2 linked regions of the Homo sapiens genome follow. The protein of the gene in region 1 purifies or fractionates together with the protein of each later gene. This does not show direct contact. Each region holds a gene or a part of one and is shown in the gene's direction. Other genes may lie near its edges. The genes, in order: OR5L1 and ANKLE2.

What was found.
Region 2: the proteins of OR5L1 (region 1) and ANKLE2 purify together in Homo sapiens (affinity purification with mass spectrometry; one large-scale study listed by BioGRID and IntAct). This does not show direct contact.

Annotation. Positions count from the first base shown.
Region 1 is NC_000011.10:55,810,001-55,813,267, forward strand, and holds OR5L1 (olfactory receptor 5L1), read left to right. Parts: upstream 1-1,366; 5' UTR 1,367-1,466; coding exon 1,467-2,402; 3' UTR 2,403-2,476; downstream 2,477-3,267. UniProt on the Homo sapiens protein: Odorant receptor.
Region 2 is NC_000012.12:132,724,938-132,728,180, reverse strand, and holds the end of ANKLE2 (ankyrin repeat and LEM domain-containing protein 2), read left to right. Parts: intron 1-17; coding exon 18-149; intron 150-737; coding exon 738-939; 3' UTR 940-2,678; downstream 2,679-3,243. UniProt on the Homo sapiens protein: Involved in mitotic nuclear envelope reassembly by promoting dephosphorylation of BAF/BANF1 during mitotic exit.

The DNA of each region.
Region 1 (3,267 bases):
CAAAAGTGTGTATTAGTTTGAACTCAGGGGAAGATACACAACTCACCTCTCCTGGTCATTTTAAGAGAAAACACCATATTATCAAAACAATTTTTTTAAATTTTCAACCTGGCATTTAGCAATATGCATGCTGCATATCTTTGAAATCAGTTGAAGAATGGGAAAAATGTCTGGTTGTGTTGGTCTCTAGTCCAGATTTTTTTCTTGCAGGAGTGCTTGACTGGTGCTTCTACAATGATGTATGAACGTATCAAGGGTCAGGAAGAGAAAGAATGACAAGATTCTCACCCTCACTTTACGTTTGCTGTGTGTCAAAGGTCTAAAAAGTATGTGTCCCTAATTTTAAAAATTCCAACGTCTTTCCCCATTTCACTCACTAATAATGATGTTTTGGGAGAAGTAAGACAAGTTAACAGATTTTTTAAAATAAATATTTATGTTCATGGATGTTGTAAGGATTAAATATACGATTGTGTGTGGCATAAATATATGTATTTATATTATACATTATTATATACTATTTTTTCTCTACATTCTGGCTGTTTTTAAGTATTTTATCCCTTTTCACAGTCATTTATTGATATCATTAAGATGATTTAAAGTTATCCTTTATATGACTGCATGCTTTTATATTATATACACTACAAATGTGATCATCTTTCTCTTATTTGATATTTTATTTCTAAGTTTTAATATTACAAACAATACTGCAATGCAGCAGTGGGAAGTTTTCTTAGTAATTTCCCATGCACATCTTTGATCAGGTCTTCAAATAGATTGAAAGCAGTAAATTTATTTAAGACATAATTTTTTAAGACTGTGGAGTCATACTTACAGTAAGTTGTCCCCAAGAGTACCAATTCCCTAAACCATGGCTGACATTGAAAAATGTAATTAACCAAATCACCATACTAATTTTACAGAGAAAATACTAATACAGATTATAAAATGAGTTTCTTCATCTAAAATATATCAATAAAATGCAAACACTTGACTGCTAACATCTTAAATAAGTGTATTTCTCATCACTGTAATGAAAAATTCAGAGAGAGGTGCCGTAGATTCTAAACATTATTTTCTAGGATCCCAATATTTGGAGTTGGCTAAGAAAATGGGATTTGAATTTGAAAGAGTAAGGAGGCTAATTAAATAGTAAGTTGACCTCATTCCCAATGATTCAGTGAAAAGCTGTCAATTCTCAAAGACTAATTAAAAGAACAATATAAATTCATATATACGTTAATATTTTTGTTTGATCTTTGAATTAAACTAAGTTTATGCATTTGTGTTATACAAAGTTGAACTTTTTAAAATTTCACAAAAAGTTTTATTCTTTGCTGATAAGATAAACTATCCTACTTTTTCTGGTGTCTTTTTACAGGATACAGCCAAAACTAAAATTTAGACTATATAATGGAGAATAATTTTTAAGTTTCTTTTCCTCCAATCTCATATAAATTGGAGACATGGGCAAGGAAAACTGCACCACTGTGGCTGAGTTCATTCTCCTTGGACTATCAGATGTCCCTGAGTTGAGAGTCTGCCTCTTCCTGCTGTTCCTTCTCATCTATGGAGTCACGTTGTTAGCCAACCTGGGCATGATTGCACTGATTCAGGTCAGCTCTCGGCTCCACACCCCCATGTACTTTTTCCTCAGCCACTTGTCCTCTGTAGATTTCTGCTACTCCTCAATAATTGTGCCAAAAATGTTGGCTAATATCTTTAACAAGGACAAAGCCATCTCCTTCCTAGGGTGCATGGTGCAATTCTACTTGTTTTGCACTTGTGTGGTCACTGAGGTCTTCCTGCTGGCCGTGATGGCCTATGACCGCTTTGTGGCCATCTGTAACCCTTTGCTATACACAGTCACCATGTCTTGGAAGGTGCGTGTGGAGCTGGCTTCTTGCTGCTACTTCTGTGGGACGGTGTGTTCTCTGATTCATTTGTGCTTAGCTCTTAGGATCCCCTTCTATAGATCTAATGTGATTAACCACTTTTTCTGTGATCTACCTCCTGTCTTAAGTCTTGCTTGCTCTGATATCACTGTGAATGAGACACTGCTGTTCCTGGTGGCCACTTTGAATGAGAGTGTTACCATCATGATCATCCTCACCTCCTACCTGCTAATTCTCACCACCATCCTGAAGATGGGCTCTGCAGAGGGCAGGCACAAAGCCTTCTCCACCTGTGCTTCCCACCTCACAGCTATCACTGTCTTCCATGGAACAGTCCTTTCCATTTATTGCAGGCCCAGTTCAGGCAATAGTGGAGATGCTGACAAAGTGGCCACCGTGTTCTACACAGTCGTGATTCCTATGCTGAACTCTGTGATCTACAGCCTGAGAAATAAAGATGTGAAAGAAGCTCTCAGAAAAGTGATGGGCTCCAAAATTCACTCCTAGGGAAGATTTTATTAGCACAATTCAGGATTCCCAAGTAGTGGCAGGCGGGGGTTCACGGGAGAGGCACAGTGTTGGAGTACAGAGAAGAAGGAGCTCAGTAGTTATAAGCGAGTCTTTTTTGATTCACTTATCTTTGTGCTTCTTAAACTTTAAGGAGTAGGATTGAACATATTTCAAAATTTGCTGCCAACTTTTAAAAAATAAATACATAATGTTTAAATGGATATGAGCAATAGTATTATTAAGATAGACAAGTTTTGCTTTCTCTAAAACCATTACAAGTCTTCTAATGAAGAACTTACAAGGGTTACAATTTATTTCAGGATCCATTATGGAAACTACGATTCTTTTCAAAACAAAGTTTTCATTATTTTGTATTGATGATTACATTGTCATTGAAGTTTGTAGAATTTCATATATATATGGATTATATGTATATATGGAATATATATGTGTGGAATACATATGGAATATTTATATATTCCATATATATGTATAATGTGTATATATTTATCAGTTTTTGACATTTTAAAATTCTTTATTATTTTCTTGCTGTTGTTTTAGTTTCCAGTGTCATTGGAACTTTGGATAATATGTTATATGATAGATGAAAAACATAATAATTTCACAGGACTCTAGGAAAATTGAATTTAAAAAGCTGGAATCACTTACAAGGAGCTTAGAATAATCCCTGAAACATAATAAGTAGTTCTCTCTTTTTCTCTCTGTCTATGCTATATACATATATATTATATATACATAAACATGTGCATATAATAATTTAGAATTATTATGAATCTCAGCATTTCTGAATTAACCATCTTCTCTCACTTTATCTTTACTTCTTATCTTCAAACTAACTCTA
Region 2 (3,243 bases), on another chromosome or scaffold:
TTTATTGTGCTTTCTAGAGAGGAGCCATCAAAACTCGATCAGGATGTTTTGGCCGCTCTTGAATGTGCAGACGTCGACCCCCATCAGTTCCCGGCCGTGCACAGATGGAAGAGTGCTGTCCTGTGCTACTCACCCTCGGACAGACAGAGGTATGTGGGGCCCGGACAGCCTGTCACCCGCAGGGCAGCTTTTGGAAACTTCTGCAGGGTCCAGTTCCACTTCATGCGAACCTATCAGTGGCTTTTCCCAACGCTGGCAGGCCCGTCAGCCAGGCTGTGGATTTGGGTGTTGTGGCTCTCTGCACACAGGACAGAGCTCTGGTTGGGTGGAAAAGCTGAACGGGTCAGCTCCTGACAAGCTGAGGGCTAGAAGGGTGGAAGCAGCAGGGTTTCTACTCAGATCACACAGGATTCTCCGGGAAACCCCCATGAGCTTGACTCTCCCAGTGCCCGCGGTGCCAGGGTTCAGCAGTGCCTCTCCTCCACCCAGACGCATGTGCCCACGGTGCCAGGGTTCAGCAGTGTGTCTCCTCCGCCCGGGCGCGTGTGCCCGCGGTGCCAGGGTTCAGCAGTGCGTCTCTTCCACCCGGGCGTGTGTGCCCGCGGTGCCAGGGTTCACCAGTGCCTCTCCTCCGCCCGGGCGCATGTGCCTGAGTCTGGGGCCATTATTCTCCGACTTTTGCTGTTCATCTCCGGGCCTGTGCCCGTCTGCTAACAGTTCTTTCTTGCTTTCCGCAGTTGGCCCAGTCCCGCGGTGAAAGGAAGGTTCAAGTCTCAGCTGCCAGATCTCAGTGGCCCTCACAGCTACAGTCCGGGGAGAAACAGCGTGGCTGGAAGCAACCCCGCAAAGCCAGGCCTGGGCAGTCCTGGGCGCTACAGCCCCGTGCACGGGAGCCAGCTCCGCAGGATGGCGCGCCTGGCTGAGCTTGCCGCCCTGTAGGCTTGGCGCTGGGCTCTCGGTTTGTTCTTCATTTTTAAAGAAGGAAGGGTCATATGTTTATTGCTAAACTGTCAAAAAGGAATATATTCTGATTAAATTATTACTCCTCACTTTGAGGGTGTGAGAATTTTAGAAGATTTAAATGTTCTATATAACACTTAGATTTCTGATATTTTGGAAGAAGTTAGAAGTTAATGAAAGCAAACTCAGTTACCAATTTTCTGGAAAATATCCATGTGGTAATGGTAGACTTTTTAGGTGGCAATTTCTAGGTCTGAAATATAGCAGAGGAAAGGGCGCTGAGGCAGTTGCAGGCAGGCAGCCCTGTACTTACCCTGTACTCACCTCATCCGACAGACGCTGTGGATGAGGAGGGGCTTGGCGGAGGCGTGAGCACCGATGTCCCTTTGATAACCTGCACTCACCAAGATGAACTATTTGCCGCCCTGTCTTTTCCTGGGTTGGGGGGTGGCATCTGATGGTGGCAGAGTGCCTGTTGGTTCGCCCGTGGGTCTCATGGTTCAGACAGAGGGAGGTGGACGGCAGGGATCAGGGAGCCAGGAGCGCGCCTCAGACTTGCAGCAACCATTGTGATTTGGGTTGTTCGGAATATTTAAATTACTGATCAGAAGATGAAAGTAGCTTTTCTCTTGGGAAGTCTTGCAGCCCGTGGGAGTGATACCAGGAGCAACACAGAGCTCAGCAGCGGCGCCAAGGTGTTCCCTGTTTCCTCAGCACGTGAGCCTTCACCGCCTGCTTCATTCAGGAGCCAGTGCAGCAGTAATACAGTCTATACATTGTTCTGTTTTCAAATTTATCCTGAGGCTTTGTTGAGCATAAATGATTATACGATAAAGGTATCCGTTATTTTGGAACTCATTTCAGTTGGGATCTCCTGTATGCAGAGTGTTGCATTTAGAGGTTTGAGTCCCATCTTGGTTTCTTGCCGTGCTGACTGTAGCCTTCACCTTGACTTGAATGAAGGTCTGTGGTTGGAATGTGTGAGGAGCCGCTGAGGTGTTCAGGAGGTGCTGCCTGGAGGTCGGTTTCTTCCTGGGTGTTACGGGCAACTGCTCACACAGTTGTTTCTCTGTGAACATTTCCAGTGTTTAATCCAAAATGAAAACCCACCAATGCTTTTGCTAACTTCAGTGCCTTTTATAAATCATTTTTAAATTTCCTGAACTTGCTTTTTGAGGATATACAGGGATATTAAGTAGACGCAGGATTGTTTTTGTTTGTAAAAATTCTGAATTGAAACTTTGTTTTAAAAAAAGGCTTCTTTCTTTCATATGACAAGAGATAGGTCAGGAATATTGGAATCAAGATTTAAATGTTAAAATTCGATTTTGTTACACAGGGTGTGTTCATTTGTTTTGTAGCAGACAAGATCTAGATCCCAGACAGAAACAACACATGCTATTCTAAAAAGCCGCATTTTAAAAGGCACCTTGGTTCTCAAAAGAAATCAGAATATGGATATTCGTAGTGATGATCTGTTTTCTCTAAAATCTTACCATATTGTCTGTATATGGTTGTAAATTCAAATGGAAAGTAAAACGTTTTGGCCCTGATTTTGTATGTGGACCACTGCTCCTGATTTCCCAGGTCTTAGGCCACCTTTGACTGTTTCTCCGTTTGTTTGTGGGCAGCGATTCCAGTCCCAACGGAGGCATTCTCGTGTGTCCCGGGGGGTTATGTCCTTCACAAAACACTTAATGAAATGAATTACTTCAAAACCGCGTGGTAATAATTGCAAGCTTTCGGAAGGATCCCTCACTTGTGCCCAGGCGCACGGCACTGTTTTGGTTGGACGGCCATCAACCTGGGTGCCCTCAGATTCGCTCGCTGTTTTTAAGCCCCTTTCTTGACTCAGTTGTGAAAGATTTTCTGGCATCCGTTAAAAGAGCACAGATTTTACCGTTGCTCTTGGCAGTGGGAAACCTTGGTGACATTAACAGTTGCTGTGGTGGCTTTGGTTGGAAAGTGCCCTTCTCCAGCGTGGTGGCAGCTGTGAGGGAGGCGCCCGGTGAGTCTGCTGCTCGTTTCTGGGTAAAAGCAGCCATGGTGCTGCGTACCAGCCGTGGGAGTGCCAGCGGCGCCATGGCAGGGACCACAGCCAGGTCCTCCAGAGCCGTGTGGATGTTTCCAGAAGCCTGCAGAGTTTTCCCAGGGAAGGGCTGATGGAAACCCTCATTGGGGCCCGGCTGTGCGTGCGGGGTGCAGGCGTGTTTGTCGTGGTTGGAAACCCTGTGACTGCTCCAGCTGCAGATTCCCGCCCGTGCTCCCTCCTTAGAAAAGGCT